Homo sapiens: one gene and its partners. The protein of the gene in region 6 purifies or fractionates together with the protein of the main gene of each other region. This does not show direct contact. Each region holds a gene or a part of one and is shown on either strand. Other genes may lie near its edges. The genes, in order: ITGAV, MANBA, NLRP2, MAN2B1, MST1R, NCR3 and MSLN.

The links.
Region 1: the proteins of NCR3 (region 6) and ITGAV purify together in Homo sapiens (affinity purification with mass spectrometry; one large-scale study listed by BioGRID and IntAct). This does not show direct contact.
Region 2: the proteins of NCR3 (region 6) and MANBA purify together in Homo sapiens (affinity purification with mass spectrometry; one large-scale study listed by BioGRID and IntAct). This does not show direct contact.
Region 3: the proteins of NCR3 (region 6) and NLRP2 purify together in Homo sapiens (affinity purification with mass spectrometry; one large-scale study listed by BioGRID and IntAct). This does not show direct contact.
Region 4: the proteins of NCR3 (region 6) and MAN2B1 purify together in Homo sapiens (affinity purification with mass spectrometry; one large-scale study listed by BioGRID and IntAct). This does not show direct contact.
Region 5: the proteins of NCR3 (region 6) and MST1R purify together in Homo sapiens (affinity purification with mass spectrometry; one large-scale study listed by BioGRID and IntAct). This does not show direct contact.
Region 7: the proteins of NCR3 (region 6) and MSLN purify together in Homo sapiens (affinity purification with mass spectrometry; one large-scale study listed by BioGRID and IntAct). This does not show direct contact.

The regions. Positions count from the first base shown.
Region 1 is NC_000002.12:186,679,229-186,681,401, forward strand, and holds the end of ITGAV (integrin alpha-V isoform 1 preproprotein), read left to right. Parts: 3' UTR 1-1,673; downstream 1,674-2,173.
Region 2 is NC_000004.12:102,691,469-102,694,968, forward strand, and holds part of MANBA (beta-mannosidase precursor), read right to left. Parts: intron 1-3,500.
Region 3 is NC_000019.10:54,964,949-54,969,173, reverse strand, and holds the start of NLRP2 (NACHT, LRR and PYD domains-containing protein 2), read right to left. Parts: upstream 2,801-4,225; 5' UTR 2,707-2,800; intron 1-2,706. UniProt on the Homo sapiens protein: Suppresses TNF- and CD40-induced NFKB1 activity at the level of the IKK complex, by inhibiting NFKBIA degradation induced by TNF. When associated with PYCARD, activates CASP1, leading to the secretion of mature pro-inflammatory cytokine IL1B.
Region 4 is NC_000019.10:12,649,743-12,653,242, reverse strand, and holds part of MAN2B1 (lysosomal alpha-mannosidase isoform 1 precursor), read left to right. Parts: intron 1-782; coding exon 783-880; intron 881-972; coding exon 973-1,090; intron 1,091-3,020; coding exon 3,021-3,139; intron 3,140-3,228; coding exon 3,229-3,330; intron 3,331-3,500. UniProt on the Homo sapiens protein: Necessary for the catabolism of N-linked carbohydrates released during glycoprotein turnover. Cleaves all known types of alpha-mannosidic linkages.
Region 5 is NC_000003.12:49,893,874-49,897,373, reverse strand, and holds part of MST1R (macrophage-stimulating protein receptor isoform 1 preproprotein), read left to right. Parts: coding exon 1-94; intron 95-483; coding exon 484-645; intron 646-740; coding exon 741-834; intron 835-966; coding exon of another isoform or gene 967-969; coding exon 970-1,179; coding exon of another isoform or gene 1,180-1,254; exon of another isoform or gene 1,255-1,266; coding exon 1,267-1,413; coding exon of another isoform or gene 1,414-1,493; coding exon 1,494-1,659; intron 1,660-1,825; coding exon 1,826-1,927; intron 1,928-2,000; coding exon 2,001-2,207; intron 2,208-3,500. UniProt on the Homo sapiens protein: Receptor tyrosine kinase that transduces signals from the extracellular matrix into the cytoplasm by binding to MST1 ligand. Regulates many physiological processes including cell survival, migration and differentiation.
Region 6 is NC_000006.12:31,590,207-31,594,144, forward strand, and holds the start of NCR3 (natural cytotoxicity triggering receptor 3 isoform a precursor), read right to left. Parts: upstream 2,801-3,938; 5' UTR 2,516-2,800; coding exon 2,473-2,515; intron 1-2,472. UniProt on the Homo sapiens protein: Cell membrane receptor of natural killer/NK cells that is activated by binding of extracellular ligands including BAG6 and NCR3LG1. Stimulates NK cells cytotoxicity toward neighboring cells producing these ligands.
Region 7 is NC_000016.10:763,734-766,547, forward strand, and holds part of MSLN (mesothelin isoform 1 preproprotein), read left to right. Parts: intron 1-289; coding exon 290-410; intron 411-913; coding exon 914-993; intron 994-1,173; coding exon 1,174-1,303; intron 1,304-1,376; coding exon 1,377-1,570; intron 1,571-1,793; coding exon 1,794-1,884; intron 1,885-1,957; coding exon 1,958-2,057; intron 2,058-2,325; coding exon 2,326-2,504; intron 2,505-2,601; coding exon 2,602-2,757; intron 2,758-2,814. UniProt on the Homo sapiens protein: Membrane-anchored forms may play a role in cellular adhesion. Megakaryocyte-potentiating factor (MPF) potentiates megakaryocyte colony formation in vitro.

The DNA of each region.
Region 1 (2,173 bases), on a different chromosome or scaffold from region 6:
TGGATAGAAAGTCACTCTTTGGCAAAAGTGTTAGAATTTGCTTTTGTGCCATCTATTCCTTTTATGGCATCTATCTTGAAAGTAATCTTGTATTGGAGATTGAAAGATGCTGTAATTTAGAAATTAACATGATATCTTAAATTACCTTTATGAAATATAGTTTTGTATAATAGCATAGATTTTCCTTCAAAAAATGAACATTTATATATCTACAAAAATATGGAGAAGAGTAATTTGAAAGCCTACTTTCTGAAGAAAATGGTGGGATTTTTTTTTATCATGATTAAATATCAAAAAATTGCCCTATGAAAACTTTAAATCTCTAAAACATTTGAAATACTACCATATTTGTGATTTATTGAGAATAAAAATCCATTTTGAAATGTAAAATTTTTATGATCTGATTCAGTTTTAAGAAAACATGAATGAACTAGAAGATATTAAAAACATTTGACATTGGTAAGAAATATTGATACTGATATTGATTTTTATATAGGTATTTATTTCAGAATTGATATTTTGAGAAAAATACATGTGAGTCATTTTTTCTGTTTCTCTTTTCTCTTAACGATTATCACTGTAATTCTGAATCTGAAAGGTAAAACAATTAGTCAAAATATTATTGCCATCATTCTACCTGTGTTATGAAACTACTTATTCATAGTTAATTCTCATTAACACTTACATTTCCATAAAGAAAACTCAAGTATTAATAAAAGAGACTTTACTGGCTTAAGAGGGCTGTGAAAGATTTTTGATAGTGAATCATGACCCTAAGGGAGAGATTTGTGTGATAAAAGTATTGTATATAATAGATCAGCGATTTTTGTAAGGCAAACAGAATTTGTAAGTTGGCAGATCTTCCTAAGTTGCAAAATGTAATGATGAGCTTGGTGGAGAAGAATGAGTCGTTCTTGGAATACCTATGTGCAGCCACTACCCATCTCAATGTCACCTTGTTTGCATTCTTGGATAGCTTGTATATGTAGTAGTTTGATGAATAATTTAAAGAAAAACACCTAAAATTTGAAAAATGATTGTAGGATCAAAAAAGGCAGATGAAATTACTTAATACTCAGTGTTTTGGAGAGTATTCCTTTTAGTTTGTTGGTTGGCTGGTTTGAACGATAGAAATATGCAGCATGCAATATATGCTTATATTTCATTTTAATTTCTGATATATAATGAACTTCTTGGGAGAGGTACTGAATCTTTGATGTTTTTTGTCATTGTTCTCAAGTGCAATATAACAATGTAACCAAATCTAGATAATTTCAAAGTTGTCATTAATTTAGTAAGCCTAATATAAACAAATATTTGTATTATTTTTGTTAGCAGGAAAGAGTGATTAAGTGAGGTTATTTACCCCTAAATGGTCCATTCTGCATTGTATTTCAGGCTGGAAATGAATTATTCTTTACCAGTTTTGAAACACTTTGAAATATCCTAAGGTAACTTGGAAGCTGTGTAGTATATCAAATTAATTTGCTACCTAATAACATAGAAAGTAAATATCTTTGTGGTCACCCACATTGGGTGAGACAGAAAATGAATCTGTTCTAAAATTTGTAATTTGCTAACTTGATTTGAGTTAGTGAAAACTGGTACAGTGTTCTGCTTGATTTACAACATGTAACTTGTGACTGTACAATAAACATAAGCATATGGTACCACTTTTGTGTATGGGGTTTATCCTTTCTGTGACGTGTTTTTGTTTTTTGATTACATGAGCTAGCAATAATGCACTAAAAGGATGACCTCAGAGGTAACTTTCTGTAAAACTTCAAATCTTGAATGTCAGTTATTTGATGAAAAGAAACACAAAAAGAGCAAAATGTACCACATTAAAATTCATCCTTAGAAAGGCAAATATGTATTTGCCTGAAATATAAGAATTATTTTATTTCTAAACAAACATTTCTAAATTCATTATGCTAACCTTTATTATTTTTACATTATCAGATTCCTTTTAAAATGCACATTTACATCTTTTATAATTTTTAATTATAGTGTATATATGTCATTGCATATATGCAGTTGCAATATACATATGCAATTCTAGTATAAAAATACCTATTTTTATAAATGAAAAGTACCAAGAAGAAAATTAAGTGTTGAGATGCTTGGGAAATTATACTGAAGTAGCATAATACACCACCGTAAATTCCTATGG
Region 2 (3,500 bases), on a different chromosome or scaffold from region 6:
CTAATACAGAGAGGGTGAAGGAAGGCTTTCTCTCTTTTCTTTTTCCTTTTTTTTTTTTTTTTTGACACAGGTTCTCACTCTGTTGCCCCGGGAGTCACACAATCATAGCTCACTGTAGCTTTGAACTCCTGGGCTCAAGCAATCCTCCTGCCTCAGCCTTCTGAGCAGCTGGCACTATAGGCATGTGCCACTCACCTAGCTAATTTTCTTTTTACTTTTTGTAAAGATGAGGTCTCACTTTGTTGTCCAGGTTAGTCTTGAACTCCTGGCCTCAAGCAATCCTCCAGCCTCTACCTCCCAAAGCACTGGGATTATAGGCATGAGCCACCATGCCTGGCCAAGGAATGCTTTCATTAGAAAGTGGTATCTAGCTGAGACCAGAAGGATGCCTCAGCTAAGTACAGAGGAAGATGATAAGGATTCTGGGCACAGAGAAGCATGTGAAGGCCCATGAGTGAGACAGCAATGCCATAACAAGGAAAACAAGGAACTTGGGCAATAACAAAATTGATGAGGGGGTCAGCATAATTGAAAAGTTGAGCACGGTCCAAATGACACTGGGTCTTTTCGAACAGGTAAGGAGTCTGGCAATTTCACCCCAGATCAATGCGGAGTCATTGAAGATTTTTCATCAAAGAGCATGACCAGATCTGCATTTTATAAGAATTGCTAAAGGTCCCAGCACAGTGATATACAAGGATGAATATGAAAGAAGCAGAAAGATATAAAATCTCTCTGTGTACAAAAAGCCCCAGAAAATGCCACTTGGAAAAGCCAGGAACAGAGAGGAGGCAAAGAAGAGTGTTGATCAGAAAGAAGAGAAAACAAGACCGAAGAGGAGAATTATAGGGAAAGAAGAAAGATGAGGGATGAACTTTGGGTGCAGAGTTTGGGGTTGTCAGAATGTTTCGAAGAGGTTTTGAAGTAGAGTTTTATATACGCGCAGTATGACTCTGTCCTCCATTTCCTGTCAAATTTATATTGTTTGTATAATGTCTCCGGGTTTGGTTTTGTGTTTAGTTTTTATTTTTAAACAAGATAGAGCACTGGGACAGACTTGGGACAAGAGCTGGGTGGAAAAACAGACCGTTTTTTAAAGTTACGCAGAAGAAACTGGTCATGAGATCTCAAAAAAGCTTGGAGGTACAGGGGGTTAGAGTCAGCAAAAAAAGTTCTCATTCTTTGCTGCCACAGAAAGAAAGGAGAAGAGCAGTGACTGTGCAGAGGCATTTAAGTTTCTATGATTCGTGGCAAAGTATGGAGGGAGTTCCTATTTAGTGGCTTCTATTTTTCTCCAAAGGAAGGGGAGGGGGAAGGCTACTAGCTGAGAAGTATCTTAGAGACCTTTCTCCTACAAATAAAGAAGAGATTAATAATCATGGCTTTGCTGCAAAAGAAAAAAAAAAAAGCTAGGTTTCTATGCTGATCAATGACAAAAGACGTTATAACCGGCACTGTTTACAACTGTAGGAGCACACCAGGCCTGTTCTAAAGATGACCCCAGCACAGTTTATCATTCGCATCTCCCATCAGCCAAAAGCATAGATTTGATGCACATTGAAGTAAAATTAATCCTGGACTTAAGAACTATTTTTGTTTATTAAGTGATTTATTCTGAGAAATACTAGTCGATGAGCTCTGAGTTAGGTTTGTTCTGATCCAGTTAATTTTGCAGGTTACTTACCGATAGCCTCCAGGTTTTGAATCTATCAGCTGGTAGATCACCTAGTCTGCTCGCTCACCAGTGTTTAATTTCCTCTATTCAATAGGTTGTCAAACTATGGTCTTTGGGACAAATCTAGCCCACCTCTTGTTTTTATAAATAAACTTTTATTGGAACACAGATGTTATGGACTAAATGGTGGACTCTTCCCCTAAAATTCTTATGTTGAAGCCCTAACCTCCAGCTTTTTATGAAGTAATAAGGGTGGGGCAGTAATCTGTTAGGATTGCAGCCTTATAAGAAGAGGAAGAAACAGATATCCGTCTCTCTCTCTACTATGTGAGGACATAGCAAGAAGGCATCTGTCTGCAAGCCAGGAAACGAGCCCTCACTGGAAACCAAATGGGCCAACACCTTTATCTCGGACTTCCCAGCTGCCAGAACTACGAGAAATAAACTTCTGTTATTTAAGCCACTCTGCCTATGGTATTTTCTTAGGGCAGCCAGAGCAGACTAACTTAATAGTCATGCTCATTTGTTTACTTATTGTCTTTGGTTACCTTTGCAATACAACAGTAGAGTTGAGTAGTTGTGACAGATGCCTAAACTATTTTACTATGTGATCCTTAAGAGAAAAAGTTTGCTAATCCCTGCCCTAGAATATTACCCCCAAAAAAGGCCATTCCAACCTTTCTTTAAATATCTCTAATGACAAAAAAACCTCTGCCTCACAAAATAGCCTTCCCATTTTTGCCAGGCTTGGCTATTGTAAAGACTCCCTTTACACTGAATTTGAAATATACTTCTCCTTAATATCCAACTAAAGATTTTAGCTCTGTCCTTTGAGCACCTCCTACCAACGAAGCAGGCTCCTGTGTTGTTTTCTGTTACTTCTTCTTTAGTAGGAGAATCAGCTGTTAGTGACAGCCTCTGACAGGAAAACAAATAATGCAATCCTCAAAGGTCATCGGCAAAATTCCCCAGTTTCTCTTGCTTTGAACTTGGAAGGTTCTCGAGCAAGTCCGCACTCCTCCAGAGCATCACCCGTTAACACCCCTGGGAACTACTAAATGAAAAAACTAAGGTTGTAGAATTAAAAACACAGTATGAAGATCTACAAGCCTACAAAGTTATCACCAGATATACTTAATAACATATTTTTCCCCTCTCCTCTTCTTTCAAATAGAGTAAACCCCTTCCTTCCAGTAGCACATGGAAAAGTAGGTAATTTAGGTTCACAAGGCGCAAAGTCTTAAATAACCAGTAGTTTTCCTGATGTTCTTTGGTCACTCCTTTTCACTTGCTAAATTAAATTTATAAATTGCATAATCCTATTTGTAGTTAAGAAGAACTCCATCTTATAAATTAAGCCCCATTTCTAGAATACAGCTTCCTATCATCTCTCTCCTAGCATTAATAAGTCACCATGTCTTGAAGAACACTTATCATCACCAGCTCTCCTGAAGTAAAATGCAAGATCACTTCAAAAATGGATGAAGTACTGGGGGTGAGGGCAGGAAAGAAGGATTGCTACATCTTCTAGAATCCCCTACAGAGCTCATCCTTCCAATCACACCACCAAGTTCTGCATCCTCTCTTCACTTTGACTAAACAACTCAGCACAAAGAGGACAGGAATTCTTTATCAAAACAGGTGCAAAGGCAATGCTGGCCTGCCCTCTCCACAATTCAAGGCCTTGAGGCCCTCCCTGGCCTGAAGGCTTATTGGTGTCCTCGCTGATGTCCTAAGCCCAAGCAGAAGAGATTATGTTCTACAGTTTGTTCATATAACCTCAATCAGGAAGGCAACCCAGAGGATGGTAGAGAATGTGGTTCTG
Region 3 (4,225 bases), on a different chromosome or scaffold from region 6:
CAGGTTCTAAAAGTTAACCTATAAAGCGAAAACACTCTCTCATTATAGCAAAGTAGTAACACAACAATGAAAGGACAAGCATAGATCAGATAAGGAAGTGGGGAGCTACGTGGATCACCCAGGAGACAAGAAACTTCGTGAAAACTGGGCTGAATATGATAATGCAAACACACAGCCGGGCGCGGTGGCTCACGCCTGCAATCCCAGCACTTTGGGAGGCCGAGGCGGGCGGATCGTGAGGTCAGGAGATCGAGACCATCCTGGCTAACACAGTGAAACCCCGTCTCTACTAAAAATACAAAAAATTAGCCGGGCGTGGTGGCAGGTGCCTGTAGTTCCAGCTACTTGGGAGGCTGAGGCAGGAGAATCGCTTGAACCTGGGAGTGGGAGGCAGAGGTTGTGGTGAGCTGACATGGCGCCACTGCACTCCAGCCTGGGGCGACAAGAGTGAAACTGTCTCAAAAAAAAAAAAGGCTTAAAGATAACTTAGTGGTGGAGCCTGGTCTCAGGACACAGGTGTGTGGCTTTTACTTTACTGAAGCTGGCCGGGGGGCCATGGCTCACACCTGGAACCCCAAACACTTTGGGAAGCCAAGGTGGGAGGATTGCTTGGAGTTTGAGACCAGCCTGGGCAACATGGCAAAACCCTGTCTCTACAAAAAAATACAAAAAAAAAAAAAATTGTGCTGGGCATAGTGGCATGCACCTGTAGTCCCAGCTACTGAGGAGGCTGAGGTGGGAGGATCACCTGAGCCAGGGAAGTTAAGGCTGCAGTGAGCTGTGATCGCACCACTGCACTCCAGCCTGGTAAAACAAACAAAAACACAACACTGGGGGTGGTGGCTGACGCTTGCAATCCCCGCACTTTGGGAAGCTCAGGTGGGTGATCACTCCAGTCCAGAAGTTCCAGACCAGCCTGGCAACTTAAGACCCTGTCTCTATTTTAAAAACAACAGGGCCGGGTGCGGTGGCTCACGCCTGTAATCACAGCACTTTGGGAGTCCAAGGTGGGAGGATCACCTGAGGTCTGGAGCTTGAGACCAGCCTGGCCAACATAGTGAAACCCTATATCGACTAAAAATACGAAAATTAGCCAGGTTGGTGACAGGCGGCTGTAGTCCCAGCTACTTAGAAGGCTGAGGCACGAGAATTGCTTGAACCTGGGAGGTGGAAGTTGCAGTGAGCTGAGATAGCGCCACTGTACTCCAGCCTGGGAAACAGAGCTAGACTTTGTCTCAAAAAAAAAAAAAAAAAAATAGCAGTAGCAACAAAAACTTTACAGAAAGGGTATAACACCTCTTTATATGATAGCTGTGAATAGCGTGAGAATGGCAACTGGCATAGGTATTTGCATAAGACTCAGGTCCGGAAGCTGGACTAGAATGATGCTAAGAGGCTCCCTCACCTCAGTGAATAAAAAACAATACCTTCTTGTTAAGAGGACTCATTAGACACAAAACCTTAGCACTGCCCAGGACTCCACACACAGCAACCACAGCATCTGACCTGTTCCAATATATTTTTTTTTTTGGAGCTCTCTATAGCTCTATCCTAAATCCCCCAAGAGAACAGAAATAAAAGCACACACAACTATCCTCTTATGAGCCAACCTTAACTAGAGTCTCTCTAGATCTAAGCATCTGCTACTCTTTCCCCAGTCAGAACCACTGAATTTTATTTTATTTTATTTTTTGAGACAGTTTCTCTCTTGCTGCGCAGGCTGGAGAGCAATGGTATGATCTAGGCTCCCCGCAACCTCCGCTTCCCGGGTTCAAGTGATTCTCCTGCCTCAGCCTCCTGAGTAGCTAGGATTACAAGTATGCGCTACCACGCCCACCTAATTTTATATTTTTAGTAGAGATGGGGTTTCTACATGTTGGTCAGGCTGGTCTCGAACTCCCGACCTCAGGTGATCCTCCCGCCTCGGCCTCCCAAAGCGCTGCGATTACAGGCGTGAGCCACTGAGACAGGCAGAACCACTTAATTTCTAACAGAAGAAAAGATTTAGGCCGGGCGCGGTGGCACCTGCCTATAATCCCAGAATTTTGGGAGTCTGAGGCAGGAAGATCGCTTGAGCCCAGGAGTTAGAGACCAGCTTCGGCAACATATTAAGACCCTACATCTAGTGAGTCTCTGCAAACAGTGGTAATAATAATATTATTAGCCAGAACAGATGTGGTGGCACCCTCCCACGGTCCCAGCTACTTCAAAGGCTGAGGCGTGAGGACTGCTTGAACCTGAGAGGTCAAGGGTTCAGTGAGCCGAGATCCTGCCACAGCGCTCCAGCCTGGGAAACAGAGTAAGACCCTCAAAAAAGAGAAGAAAAAAAAAAAAAAAAAAAAAAAAAAGGCTGGGCGCGGTGGCTCACGCCTGTAATCCCGGCACCTTGGGAGGCCGAGGCGGACTGAGACCAGCCTGGCCAACATGGTGAAACCCCGTCTCTACTAAAAATACAAAAAAATTAGCTGGGCATAGTGGCAGGTGCCTGTAGTCTCAGCTACTCGGGAGGCTGAGGCAGGAGAATGGCCTGAACCCGGGAGGCGGAGCTTGCAGTGAGCCGAGATCGCGCCACCGCACTCCAGCCTGGGCGACAGAGCGAGACTCCGTCTCAGAAAAAAAATATATGAAATAAAAGGAGAAATTTTACCAACTGTGGAATGGAGAAATAAAGAAATGAAGTTGCAGAGCTGCCGGAGAGCTACTCACCTCCCAACACCTGGCCCTACTCGCCGGCGGAGATGAGGGCTGCAGGTTGAGAAAGCTCTAATAAGGCTTCTCTCTCGGCCGCAGCCCTGTGATTGGCCCTCGGGGCGTAATCGTTGCTGAGCACTTCCTGTATCCACCGGAATTACTGAGAGGTCTTTTGGGGGCGGGGGGTGTTGGGGGGCGGTCCTTCACCTGAGCTTCCGGATCTCCACCTGTGGTCCTCCATCTTGACTGCCTGTTAAACTTACCTATGTGGAGCCTCATTTCAAAGCACGAACGCCTAGAGATTCTGCTTGATTGGTTACACTGGGACTGCCCAGACCCTGGAGTTCTTTCGAGAGTCCCAGATAACTGTGATTGCGGCCGAGGCTGAGAATCACCGCTTAGAAGCCTCAGCTGTGATTGGCTACCTTCTCCCATCACCCCAGGTATATTATTAATAAAAATCCAACCGTATTTCAAGTGAAATATCAATGACACGTCAACTATGAGACGCATGAAAAGCACCAAGTTCATCAGTTTCACATTCACAGTATTATTATTATTTTATTTTTAATGGAGTCTTGCTCTGTTCCCCAGGCTGGAGTGCAACGGCACGATCTCGGCTCCCCGCAGCCTCCGCCTGCCGGCTTCAAGTGATTCCCCTGCCTCAGCCTCCCGAGTAGCTGAGATTACAAGCATGCGCCACAACGCCTGGTTAATTTTTGTATTTTTTTCAATAGAGACGGGGTTTTGCCATGCTGGCCAGGCTGGTCTCAAACTCCCGACCTCAGGTGATCTGCCAGCCTCAGCCTCCTAAAGTGCTGGGATTACAGGCGTGAGCCACCTACTAAAAATACAAAAAATTAGCCGGGCGTGGTGGCGGGCGCCTGTAGTCCCAGCTACTCGGGAGGCTGAGGCAGGAGAATGGCGTGAACCCGGGAGGCGGAGCTTGCAGTGAGCAGAGATCGCGCCACTGCACTCCAGCCTGGGCGACAGAGCGAGACTCCGTCTCAGAAAAAAAATATATGAAATAAAAGGAGAAATTTTACCAACTGTGGAATGGAGAAATAAAGAAATGAAGTTGCAGAGCTGCCGGAGAGCTACTCACCTCCCAACACCTGGCCCTACTCGCCGGCGGAGATGAGGGCTGCAGGTTGAGAAAGCTCTATTAAGGCTTCTTTCTCGGCCGCAGCCCTGTGATTGGCCCTCGGGGCGTAATCGTTGCTGAGCACTTCCTGTATCCACCGGAATTACTGAGAGGTCTTTTGGGGGCGGGGGGTGTTGGGGGGCGGTCCTTCACCTGAGCTTCCCGATCTCCACCTGTGGTCCTCCATCTTGACTGCCTGTTAAACTTACCTATGTGGAGCCTCATTTCAAAGCACGAACGCCTAGAGATTCTGCTTGATTGGTTACACTGGGACTGCCCAGACCCTGGAGTTCTTTCGAGAGTCCCAGATAATTGTGATTGCGGCCGAGGCTGAGAATCACCGCTTAGAAGCCTCAGCTGTGATTGGCTACCTTCTCCCATCACCCCAGG
Region 4 (3,500 bases), on a different chromosome or scaffold from region 6:
CCCGGGAGGCGGAGGTTGCAGTGAGCCAAGATCACGCCACTTTCTGCACTCCAGCCTGGGCGATAGAGCGAGACTCAGTCTCAAAAAAAAAAAAAAAACAAAAAACCCAGGCCAGGTGCAGTGGCTCACGCCTGTAATCCCAGCCCTTTGGGAGGCCAAGGCGGGTGGATTACCTGAGGTCAGGAGTTGGAGACCAGCCTGACCAACATGGCGAAACCCCGTCTCTACTAAAAATACAAAAATTAGCCAGGCATGGTGGCATGTGCCTGTAATCCCAGCTACCCAGGAGGCTGAGGCAGGAGAATTGCTGGAACCCAGGGGCAGAGGCTGTAGTGAGCAGAGATTGCGCCCCTGCACTCCAGCCTGGGCGACACAGCAAGTTTCTGTCTCAAAAAAAAAAAATAAAAATCCGGCTGGGCACAGTGGCTTATGTCTGTAATCCTAGTACTTTGGGAGGCCAAGGTGAGCAGATCACTTGAGTTCAGGGGTTTGAGACCAGCCTGGCCAACATGGTGAAACCCTGTCTCTACTAAAAATATGAAAATTAGCCAGGCGGGGTGGTGGGCACCTGTAATCCCAGCTACTTGGATAGCTGAGGCACGAGAATCACTTGAACCCGGGAGGTGGGGGGTGCAGTGAGCCAAGATTGCACCACTGTACTCTAGCCTGGGCTACAGAGTGAGACTCAGTCTCAAAAAAAAAAAAAGAAAAAAGAAAAATTAAAAAAAGAAAACACACACACATACACACACAAACCCATCTGTGGACCCTTTTCTGCCCAGCACATCCGGGCAACGTTTGATCCTGACACAGGGCTGTTGATGGAGATTATGAACATGAATCAGCAACTCCTGCTGCCTGTTCGCCAGACCTTCTTCTGGTAAGGGAAGATCACCAGGCCTGAGGGTGGGGTGGTGGTGCTCGGCATGGAGCTAGGGCCCCTTACCTGACTCTCACCTGCCCCAACTCCAGGTACAACGCCAGTATAGGTGACAACGAAAGTGACCAGGCCTCAGGTGCCTACATCTTCAGACCCAACCAACAGAAACCGCTGCCTGTGAGCCGCTGGGCTCAGATCCACCTGGTGAAGGTCAGGGACTAGGAATGATGAGTGGGCAGTTGGGAATGGGGAAGTTATGGAGCCCAAGAGGGTGGTGGGCCATGTGTAGAGTGAGGGTAGGGGAGGATTTACTTTTCCTTCAGATCAGTGGGCTAAGACCCACAGATCAGCGGGGGAAATATTTGAGGGTCCTTCCATAGAATTGATATTCATAGCTGGTCGTATGAGAGTCTCCCCATAGGACACATCATACAAAGCCATTCACATCTGCTGTGGACGTTTACATACTTAGTTTTGGAAATTGGGGGTGGGGCATTCCCACTTGGCCCATGAATCAGGAGAGCCAAATATCACTGCTTGAAGAATTCACCAAAGTCTGTAGTAAGAGGAGCTTCTATCTGGAGTGAATATTTGAGAGTCCACCCTTGGATTGATTGGGTTTGGGTGAGTCTCAGGGTGAATGCCTATGGGTGCATCTGGCTAGGAACAGTGGTTTCCCAGGGCCTCTCATTGATGTTTGACTTTCATAGATGACAAAACTCACATTTGTCCACATTCAAGAGCCTCGCGTTTCATGTGAGTCCCTTTGAGATGAATGTCTGCATATCTGTATATAGTTTTGCCTGTTCTAACAGAGTTACCCAAATTAACTGTGACTAGAATAAGATAGAAGATTATTTTCTTCTAACAAAAAGTCTGGCTGTTAGTCCAGAGAAAGTGGGGTGGTTCCATAATCACCCAGGACCTCCTCTTCTATCTTGTTGCTCTGCCTTCCCCAATATTCAGTTTCCACCTCATGGTCCAAGATAGCTGCTGAAGCTCCAGCCGCCACATTTGTGTTTGAGTCAGTAGCAGAGGGACAGGGGCAAGGAACATTGTTGACACCACTTGGATCACTTTCTATGGGGCAAACTGGTCACTCAGCTACTGATAGCCTCAGGGAAGACTGGACAATATAGTCTTTATCCCAGGTAGCCATGTGCCAAGCTAGAATCCTATTCTATGGGGCAATGGTGAACAGGAGGCGTTTATGCCACGCTCAAGAGTGATGTGGTAAGCCAGATGCAGTGGCTCATGCCTGTAATCACAGCACTTTGGGAGACTGAAGCAGGAGGATCGCTGAGCATAGGAGTTCAAGACCAGGTGGGAGCATTTGCTGATTAGGTGCCTACATAGTGATGCCCTGTCTCAAAAAAAAAAAAAAAAAAAGAGGCCGGGTGCAGTGGCTCACGCCTGTAATCCCAGCACTTTGCGAGGCAGAGGCAGGCAGATCATCTGAGGTCAGGAGTTCAAGACAAGTCTGGCCAACATGGATAGAAACCCCGTCTCTACTAAAAATACAAAAATTAGCCAGGGGTGGTGGCAGGTACCTGCAATCCCTCTACTCGGGAGGCTGAGGCAGGAGAATTGCTTGAACCCAGGAGGCGGAGGTTGCAGTGAGGCAAGATTGTGCCACTGCACTCCATCCTGGGCAACAAGAGCAAAACTCTGTCTCAAAAAAAAAAAAAGAAAAAAGAATTATGTGGGCCAGGCGCGGTGGCTCACGCCTGTAATCCCAGCACTTTGGGAGGCCGAGGCGGGCTGATCACGAGGTCAGGAGATCGAGACCATCCTTGCTAACACGGTGAAACCCCATCTCTACTAAAAATACAAAAAATTAGCCGGGTGTGGTGGCGGGTGCCTGTAGTCCCAGCTACTCGGGAGGCTGAGGCAGGAGAATGGTGTGAACCCGGGAGGCGGAGCTTGCAGTGAGCCGAGATCGCGCCACTGCACTCCCGCCTGGGCAAAAGAGCGAGACTCCGTCTCAAAAAAAAAAAAAAAAAAAGAATTATGTGGCGGTGACTGAAGGTTGACCTTGATGTAGGCCTTAATGGGGTTTATGGCCAGGGTTGGGGGACATTTGTAGGACTCACCTCTGCTCAGGTACAGACTGACATCCACCTCACCCGTGTGCCCGCAGACACCCTTGGTGCAGGAGGTGCACCAGAACTTCTCAGCTTGGTGTTCCCAGGTGGTTCGCCTGTACCCAGGACAGCGGCACCTGGAGCTAGAGTGGTCGGTGGGGCCGATACCTGTGGGGTGAGTGGCACAGGCTGGGAGAGGGGTGTGGAAGCAAGGGCAGAGGGGTTTATCCAAGGCTCACAACCTTGCCATCCCATTGGGTACAGCGACACCTGGGGGAAGGAGGTCATCAGCCGTTTTGACACACCGCTGGAGACAAAGGGACGCTTCTACACAGACAGCAATGGCCGGGAGATCCTGGAGAGGAGGTGGGGGGTGACTGAGAGCACTGAGGGGGTGGTCTGTGGTGTGTTGGGGCCCAGGGGTGGTGAGGGAAATTTGCTGATTACATGAGTGTGGGAGACAGAGGACGAAGGGAGAGTGAAGGGCGGGGGAGCCAGGCAGGGTGCAGTGGCTCACGCCTGTAATCCCAGCACTT
Region 5 (3,500 bases), on a different chromosome or scaffold from region 6:
CAGGAGGCACCTGTCTCACTCTTGAAGGCCAGAGTCTGTCTGTAGGCACCAGCCGGGCTGTGCTGGTCAATGGGACTGAGTGTCTGCTAGCACGGTAAGTACCACCAGGCAGGCATGGGAGGCCGCAGGGTTCTATCCAGGTGGGGACCCGGATTCTGTCAGGATGGAGGGAAGAGTGCTTGTTACATGGTCAGTGTGGTGTGGAGAGCAGGTCCAGGAAGAAAAGACTACTGCCCTCTTCAGCCCAGAGGCAAGAGAGCCCATCACAGAGTCCAATGGCTCCAGCCAAGGCTGTGGGGAACCTGTTCCCTCCTTACCCTCTTGGGATGTCTTCCTGGGACCACCTTATTTTCAGACAGACCATGGAGTGGGGCAGGTGGGAGAGATAACAGACGAACTGGGAGAGGTCAACAGGCCCCTGGAAGAAGTGGGCCTGGCCATCACAAAGAGGGTAACCTTGAGCCCAATCTCTTGTTCCTGTAGGGTCAGTGAGGGGCAGCTTTTATGTGCCACACCCCCTGGGGCCACGGTGGCCAGTGTCCCCCTTAGCCTGCAGGTGGGGGGTGCCCAGGTACCTGGTTCCTGGACCTTCCAGTACAGAGAAGACCCTGTCGTGCTAAGCATCAGCCCCAACTGTGGCTACATGTAAGCACTGCCTCTTTGCCCACTCTGGCCTCTGGGGAATGAGAGAGCCAGCTTTGGAGAACACCCAAAGCCTACCACCCTACCCTCTTCCACAGCAACTCCCACATCACCATCTGTGGCCAGCATCTAACTTCAGCATGGCACTTAGTGCTGTCATTCCATGACGGGCTTAGGGCAGTGGAAAGCAGGGTGAGTGAGTGCTGGCCAGGAGGGAGGAAGGCTGGATGAGTTCCCTGAGCTGCAGCCCAACCTCGTGCTGGGCTGAGGCGAGGAGCAATCACAGGTGGGGTTCCTGGCTAATCACTCTCATATTGGTCCCAGCAGTGTGAGAGGCAGCTTCCAGAGCAGCAGCTGTGCCGCCTTCCTGAATATGTGGTCCGAGACCCCCAGGGATGGGTGGCAGGGAATCTGAGTGCCCGAGGGGATGGAGCTGCTGGCTTTACACTGCCTGGCTTTCGCTTCCTACCCCCACCCCATCCACCCAGTGCCAACCTAGTTCCACTGAAGCCTGAGGAGCATGCCATTAAGTTTGAGGTAAGTGTAAGGGATAGGGGCAGGGACAGTTGGGGATCTGAAAGTAGGGGCCAGCCTACTGGCTGGTCCTCATGACCCTCTCTGCAGTATATTGGGCTGGGCGCTGTGGCTGACTGTGTGGGTATCAACGTGACCGTGGGTGGTGAGAGCTGCCAGCACGAGTTCCGGGGGGACATGGTTGTCTGCCCCCTGCCCCCATCCCTGCAGCTTGGCCAGGATGGTGCCCCATTGCAGGTAGGCAGCCCAGCTGGACCTCCCTGGGAAACACGGGCAGAGGGCCTACAGGCTGGGCCTGAGTTGCCACCTGCCCCCAGGTCTGCGTAGATGGTGAATGTCATATCCTGGGTAGAGTGGTGCGGCCAGGGCCAGATGGGGTCCCACAGAGCACGCTCCTTGGTATCCTGCTGCCTTTGCTGCTGCTTGTGGCTGCACTGGCGACTGCACTGGTCTTCAGCTACTGGTGGCGGAGGAAGCAGCTAGGTGAGTTCTCTGCTCCTACCTTTAATCAGCCCCTACCCCCAACCAATGGCATCTTCAAGTCCCTACATCCTCTCTCTGCCCAGGACTTAGGGATCTAAGTCCTCCCCAGAGGGGTCGGCCCCTAGGAGCTTGGAAAGCCAAGCCACCAAGGATTCTCTTTCCACAGTTCTTCCTCCCAACCTGAATGACCTGGCATCCCTGGACCAGACTGCTGGAGCCACACCCCTGCCTATTCTGTACTCGGGCTCTGACTACAGAAGTGGCCTTGGTGAGATAGTGGAGGCATGAGAAGCTAAAGCCACCCCCTGTCCCTACAAGCTCCTCATTCCCTCTCCCCACAGCACTCCCTGCCATTGATGGTCTGGATTCCACCACTTGTGTCCATGGAGCATCCTTCTCCGATAGTGAAGATGAATCCTGTGTGCCACTGCTGCGGAAAGAGTCCATCCAGCTAAGGGACCTGGACTCTGCGCTCTTGGCTGAGGTCAAGGATGTGCTGATTCCCCATGAGCGGGTGGTCACCCACAGTGACCGAGTCATTGGCAAAGGTGTGGGGGCCAGGTGGGGCTGGGGCAGAGATGGAGTCTCAAGATGACATAGGCTAGGCCAGGCGTGGTGGCTCACTCCTGTAATCCCAGCACTTTGGGAGGCCGAGGCGGGCAGATCATGAGGTCAGGAGATCGAGACCGTCCTGGCTAACACAGTGAAACCCCGTCTCTACTAAAAATACAAAAAAATATTAGCCAGCCATGGTGGCAGGCGCCTGTAGTCCCAGCTACTTGGGAGGCTGAGGCAGGAGAATGGCATGAACTCGGGAGGCGGAGCTTGCAGTGAGCCAAGATTGCACCACTGCACTCCAGCCTGGGCGACAGAGCGAGACTCCTTCTCAAAAAAAAAAAAAATGACATGGGCTAAAGGGACAGTTGGAACAGATACTGCTCTAACCTTCTCACCAACCTGTGTGACCTTGGGTATACCACTTAACCTCTCTGAGCCTCCATTTGCTCATCTGTAAAATGGGGATGAGAAAAGTTCTGTCTTCAGTGGGTTCTGGTGTGGATCAATCAGGCATAGGAAGATTGTAGCCTCTGCCATCAAGTGGCTGCTGTTTGTTTTTGGTTTTATTTATGGTTTTGTTTTTGTTTTTGTGACAGGGTCTCACTCTGTTACCCAGGCTGGAGTGCAATGGCACAATCATGGCTCACTGCAGCCTCGACCTCCCCAGCCTCAGGTGATCCTCCTGCCTCAGCCTCCTGAGTAGCTGGGATTACAATCATGCACCACCATGCCTGGCTAATTTTTTGTTTATTTTTTGTAGAGATGGGCCTCGAATCATGTTGTCCAGGCTGGCCTCGAACTCCTGGACTCAAGCAATCTGCCTGCCTAACCTTCCCAAAGTGCTGGGATTACAGGCATGAGCCACCGAACCCAGCCTGTTTTATTATATTTATTTTATTTTATTTTTATTTTTATTCTATTTTATTATTATTATTTTTTTTGAGACAGAATTTCACTCTTGTTGCCCAGGCTGGAGTGCAATGGCGCGATCTCGGCTCATTGCAACCTCCTCCTCCCGGGTTCAAGTGATTCTCCTGTCTCAGCTTCCTGAGTAGCTAGGATTACAGGCGCCTGCCACAACACCCGGCTAATTTTTAGTATTTTTGGTAGAGATAGGATTTCACCATGTTGGCCAGGCCGGTCTCGAACTCCTGACCTCAGGTGATCCGCCCGCCTCAGCCTCCCAAAGTGCTAGGATTACAGGCATGAGCCACTGCCCCCAGCCTATTTTATTTTATTTTATTTTTTTTTTTTTTTTGAGAGGGAGTCTCACTCTTTCACCC
Region 6 (3,938 bases):
TCCCAGCTTTCTCCAGGCATAGGGTGCATGGGAATAGATACTTTGGGTGCCTCATTAAACCCTTCCCTCTTAACCAATCTGATTTCTTAACATTGCTTATTAAATCATTTTTCGGCTGGGTGCAGTGGCTCACGCCTGTAATCCCAGCACTTTGGGAGGCCGAGGTGGGCGGATCACCAGGTCAGGAGATCGAGACCATCCTGGCCAACATGGTGAAACCCCGTCTCTACTAAAAAAATACAAAAATTAGCCGGGCATGGTGGTGTGCACCTGTAATCCCAGCTACTCGGGAGGCTGAGGCAGGAGAATCGCTTGAACCCGGGAGGCAGAGGTTGCAGTGAGCCAAGATTGCGCCATTGCACTCCAGCCTGGGCGACAAAGCAAGACTCCATCTCAAAAAATAAAAAATAAAAATCATTTTTCAAATTCTTCCTATACCAACTCTCACTCTCACCCTCTGCCATCATTCTCCAGCCAGTTCAGTAGTAACTTGTCTAGCTGAAATGTAAACCATCATGGTGAAATTAAGCTCATTAATGAATGCAGCTGCCTAGTTAACTAATATCACTCATTATATTATCCAGGTATTATTTTAGTACAAATGGCATTGTACAGTAAGCCATCCTTCCTCTTTTTCTTTTTTCTTTTTTTGAGATGGGGTCTTGCTCTGTTGCCCAGGCTGGAATGCAGTGGTGCAATCTTGGCTCACTGCAAACTCCGTCCCCTGGGTTCAAGCGATCCTGGTGCCTCAGCCTCCCAAGTAGCTGGGACTACAGGCACCCACCACCACGACTGGCTAATTTTTGTATTTTCAGTCGAGACAGGGTTTCACCATCTGGTCTCAAACTCCTGACCTCAAGTGATCCACCCACCTCGGACCAGGCTGGTCTCAAACTCCTGATCTCAAGTGATCCACCTGCCTCGGCCTCCCAAAGTGCACCCAGCCACTCTTGGTTTTCGTTAAAGAAAGTAACTAATTAAATCTCCAGGTGAAGACGTGGCCTTAATTGGTTGAGATTCCTATTTAACCCGTCCATGTTGATGAATTAAACCAAATATTAAAATCCCTGATTAAATTATCTACTTAGGGAAATTTACAAGTCATTCTATTTCAGTGGTTCTCAAACTTGAGTGTGTATGGAAATTACCTGGAGCATCTGCTAGAACAGATTCCTGGGCCTACCCCCCGAGTTTTTGACTCAGTAGGTCTGGAGTGGGGCCTAAGAATTTGTTCTAGGTTCCCAGAAATCCACATTTTGAGAACTCCTGCATTTAGTTAATAATATGCCTGATAGTTAAGGTCTCTCAGTTCATTAAAAACAGTTTCGGCCGGGTGCAGTGGCTCACGCCTATAATCCCAACACTTTGGAAGGCCAAGGCGAGTGGATCACCTGAGGTCAGGAGTTTGAGACCAGCCTGGCCAACATGGTGAAACCTCGTCTCTACTAAAAATACACAAGTTAGCCAGCAGTAATGGCATGCACCTGTAATCCTAGCTACTTGGGAGGCTGAGACAGGAGAATCATTTTTACCCAGGAGGTGGAGGCTGCAGTGAGCTGAGATACCGCCACTGTACTCTAGACTGGACAACAGAATGAAACTGTCTCAAAAAAAAAGTTTCACCACCAGGCGGGCGCAGTGGCTCATGCCTATAATTCCAGTAATTTGGGAGACCGAGGCAGGCAGATCACTTGAGATCAGGAGTTTGAGACCAACCTGGCCAACATAGCAAAACCCCATCTCTACTAAAAATACAAAAATGGCTGGGCGCAGTGGCTCAGGCCTGTAATCCCCGCACTTTAGGAGGCCGAGGCAGGCAGATCACCTGAGGTCAGGAGTTCAAGACCAGCCCGGCCAACATGGTAAAACCCTGTCTCTACTAAAAATACAAAAATTAGTTGGGTGTGGTGGTGCGCGCTTGTAATCCCAGCTACCTAGGAGGCTGAGGCAGGAGAATTGCTTGAATCTAGGAGGCAGAGGTTGCAGTGAGCCAAGATCATGCCACTGCACTCCAGCCTAGGTGACAGAGCAAGACTCCGTCTCAAAAAAAAAAAAAATTAGCCAGGTGTGGTCGTGCGTGCGTGTAGTCCCAGCTACTCAGGAGGCTGAGGCAGGAGAATCACCTGAACATGGGAGGCAGAGGTTGCAGTGAGCCAAAATCGCACCACGGCACTCCAGCCAGGCGACAGAGCGAGACTCAGTCTCAAAAAAAAAAAAAAAAAAGTTTCACCAAGAAATTTATCATAGATTTACTTGGATCTCTCAAACTAAAAAGCCTCACAGTGGGTGACACAGAGAGACTGTGAATTGGGGGAGTCCACTGAGTGTCACCTTTGGAGCAGTCCCACTCCTCCCTCAGAGCCGTGTGTTTCAGCCCCCACCAAGCCCGTTCCCTATAGCATCTAGTCCAGCCTCCTGGATCTCCCTCCTCCCACCCACACTCCTTGGGGTCCTGAGCGCACGCCCTGTCACCTGGATGGACCATGATCAAGATGAGCAACAGCATCCAGGCCATGTCGGAAGATGTCCCAGTTGGCGAAGGGGATCTGAGCAGTGAGGTCTGGGTGGAGGAGGAAGGACTCACTACTTGTAGCCAGGCCTTTGGTCACCAGATGGGGATGGGGAGCTTCCTATGACACACGGGACTCACACATCACTTGCCAAGGACCACAACTGCCAGGGACCTCGAGCATCAAATGCTTGCCTCCCTGAGGAGAGAGGACAGATGCTGCTGGAGGAGATGTCAGGGTCTCTAGGAGGCCAAGGGGCCAGCTTGTGGCAGGCTAGCTAAGCGTGTGAGGGGGAGGGTGGGGCTTAGATGGCTGCTAACCCAAGGGTGAGTGGGCGGTTGGGCGGGTGAGACCAGGATGTGGGTTCCCCCACCTTCCGAGGTTCAAGGAGACCAGCTTTTACCCAGAACAAGCCTCCAGGAGCCCTCCTTGGCCCAGAAGCTAACCTACTTACCCTCCCTGCTGCTCACCAGTACCCAGACCCATCCCACCCATTCCCTTCCTGGAATCTGGCCTCACTGCACCCCAGGGCTACTCCAAGATTTCTATGAGGGATTAGGAGAAGCAAGCTGATTGGTGAAGCTATATTTAATTTGCATAGCAATCACCTTGTGTGTGTGTGTGTGTGTGTGTGTGTGTGTGTGTGTGTGTGTGTGTGTGTGTTTGGTTGGGTTTTTTTGTTTTTTGTTTTTTTTTTGAGCTGGAGTCTCACTCTGTTGCCCAGGCTGGAATGCAGTGGCACAATCTCGGCTCACTGCAACCTCTGCCTCCTGGGTTCAAGCAATTCTCTTGCCTCAGCCTCCCAAGTAGCTGGGATTACAGGCGCACATCACCAAGCCCAGCTAAATTTTGTATTTTTTGTAGAGACAGGGTTTTACCATGTTGGCCAGGCTGGTCTCCAACTCCTGATCTCAAGTGATCCACCAGCCTCGCCCTCCCAAAGTGCTGGGATTCCTGTTTTGGTTTTTTGAGACAGGGTCTGGCTCTGTCTCACCCAGGCTGGAGTTCAGTGGCGCCATCACGGCTCACTGCAGCCTCAACCTCCAGGGCTCAGTTGATCCTCCCACTTCAGTCTCCTGAGTAGCTGGGACTGCAGGCGCACACCACCACACCAGGCTAATTTTTGTATTTTTTGTAGAGATGGGGTCTCCCTGTGTTGCCCAGGCCGGTATCCAACTCCTGGGCTCAAACAATCCATCCACTTAGGCCTCCCAAAGTGCATGAGTCACCATGCCTGGCGAAATGTATTTCTTAAATAATGAGACTTGAAAGTCTAAATTACTCCTTAAACCATGGACTACAGGATGGATGTTATGTTAGCAGGCAGGAAAACAACATTCAGCTGGGCGTGGTGGCTCATGCCTGTAATCCCAGCACTTTGGGAGGCTGAGGTGGGAGGATCACCTGAGGTCAGGAGTCCGAGACCAG
Region 7 (2,814 bases), on a different chromosome or scaffold from region 6:
GGGCCCTCGGGACTGAGGGTGGGCAGGGCACCCCATCCCCCAGCATCCCCTCCCCCTTCCTCCTCTGCTCCACCTCAGATCTGACTGGGCTCAGGACTGCGGGAGGGACTGACACCCCTCAGGTGATGGCAACTCCCGGCCCTTGAGGGCGTCACCTGGTCTTGGGGGGAGGTCTGCAGGGAGCACCAGGGTCCTTTGGGGAGAGGTGGGGCTGTGGGGCTTGGGGAGCACTGGGTGGACATTGCAGGGGAGGGGCGATCGTGGGTGCCCAGCCCGACCCTTCCTGCAGCCTCTCCCCTCGCCAACTCCTTGGCTTCCCGTGTGCGGAGGTGTCCGGCCTGAGCACGGAGCGTGTCCGGGAGCTGGCTGTGGCCTTGGCACAGAAGAATGTCAAGCTCTCAACAGAGCAGGTCAGTCTCAGTTGGGCTGAGGCAGGTGGGCACAGCTGGGGCTGAGGAATTCACAGGCAGCTCTGCAGTGCCCACCTTGCCACCACGGTCCCCTCTGTCCCTGCTGCCATCTCTCCCCGGCCAGTTCTTCCCAGAGTTCCTCTGGCCACCCAAGCTGACCACTGGGGTGCCTGTCCACGTCAGGGGCTGGCTCCCCAGGAGCAAGTCTGATATGACGCTGTGTGCTGGGCCCCCTCCTGGAGCGCCGTGGGCAGCCCTCCAGGCTCTGCCCCAAGGGTGAATCTTTTTCGGGGGAGTGGGTGAGATCTGGGGAAGGGGAGCGGAGCCAGGCACGGGAGCCCCCATCCCCCAGGGCAGCGCTGCAGGCGGCCAGAGATCCACTTCCACAGATTCTCGTGGCCAGGGCAGGGGTGTGTTGTGGTGGGCAGACTGGCCAGGCGACCCTGGCCCACCATGTGAGTGGCGGCTCGAAACGCTCTGTGCTGGACTCCCTGCCCCTGCAGCTGCGCTGTCTGGCTCACCGGCTCTCTGAGCCCCCCGAGGACCTGGACGCCCTCCCATTGGACCTGCTGCTATTCCTCAAGTAGGCCCTGCCCCCTGAACCCACCCCCCCGGCTTTTGCCGCCAGCCCTCAGCCCCCAACCCCCTGCCCCTTGCCTCGGATCCCAGGCCACAGCAGAGATGTGGAGGCCGGCCGGGCTGCCTCTCAGGGTGGGGACGGGTGTGATCAGTGCGGCCTGTCCCCAGCACCCTCTCTTCACAGCCCAGATGCGTTCTCGGGGCCCCAGGCCTGCACCCGTTTCTTCTCCCGCATCACGAAGGCCAATGTGGACCTGCTCCCGAGGGGGGCTCCCGAGCGACAGCGGCTGCTGCCTGCGGCTCTGGCCTGCTGGGTAGGGGCTGGGGCCAGCGCGGGGCGGAGAGGGCTCGGCAGTTCCAAAAGCGCTGAGGCCAGCCTCTCTGCAGGGTGTGCGGGGGTCTCTGCTGAGCGAGGCTGATGTGCGGGCTCTGGGAGGCCTGGCTTGCGACCTGCCTGGGCGCTTTGTGGCCGAGTCGGCCGAAGTGCTGCTACCCCGGCTGGTGAGCTGCCCGGGACCCCTGGACCAGGACCAGCAGGAGGCAGCCAGGGCGGCTCTGCAGGGCGGGGGACCCCCCTACGGGTAAGTGAAGGTGTCTGGAACCTCGAAGGCTCACCTGGCGGCGTGGTATCAGCAGCGTGAGGACACTTGCGGCCATGCCTCAAGGCCCAGGGTCAGTCACCCCCGCCACCACCCCTGCCAATGCCCCCAGCGTCCCCTCCACAGCCAGGGGGTACGGCCTGGCCTCTTCCCTCTCTGGGGCTGCACGTGGGGGGTCCCTGAGCTGTGTCCCGTGTCTGCACAGCCCCCCGTCGACATGGTCTGTCTCCACGATGGACGCTCTGCGGGGCCTGCTGCCCGTGCTGGGCCAGCCCATCATCCGCAGCATCCCGCAGGTGAGACCCCAATCCCCAGCCCGTGGGGATGCCCGGCCACCCGAGGCTCAGCCCAGGTCCTGCTCGTCCTCAGGGCATCGTGGCCGCGTGGCGGCAACGCTCCTCTCGGGACCCATCCTGGCGGCAGCCTGAACGGACCATCCTCCGGCCGCGGTTCCGGCGGGAAGTGGAGAGTGAGTGCCGTGCCCTGCGCAGTCTGGCACCAGGCTGGGCAGCACCCCTGGGGGTGGGCATCACTTTAGGGTCTCACCTGCCCCTCCCTGGCTCTGCAGCACATCCCATTATAATCACAGAGAGTGGACAGAATCCCTGTTTGCCAGTGGGTAAACTGAGGCACAGGGAGGGTCACAAATGGCCCGAGGTCTCATCTCACAGGAGGTGTGGGAGGAAGAAGGGGTCAAACGAACTCCGGCCCTGACCCCTGACCCCTGTGCCCTGCAGAGACAGCCTGTCCTTCAGGCAAGAAGGCCCGCGAGATAGACGAGAGCCTCATCTTCTACAAGAAGTGGGAGCTGGAAGCCTGCGTGGATGCGGCCCTGCTGGCCACCCAGATGGACCGCGTGAACGCCATCCCCTTCACCTACGAGCAGCTGGACGTCCTAAAGCATAAACTGGATGAGGTAGTTCATGACTCAAGTTCCCACCGGCCTGCTGTGTCCAAGCCATCCCCAGCCCCTCTGGGAGTGACATGGGCCCTCCTGGTCTCTTGGCCTGCAGCTCTACCCACAAGGTTACCCCGAGTCTGTGATCCAGCACCTGGGCTACCTCTTCCTCAAGATGAGCCCTGAGGACATTCGCAAGTGGAATGTGACGTCCCTGGAGACCCTGAAGGCTTTGCTTGAAGTCAACAAAGGGCACGAAATGAGTCCTCAGGTGACCGTCCGGCTCGGGGGTCATGTGGCATGAGATTGGGAAGGGCTGAGGGGCAGA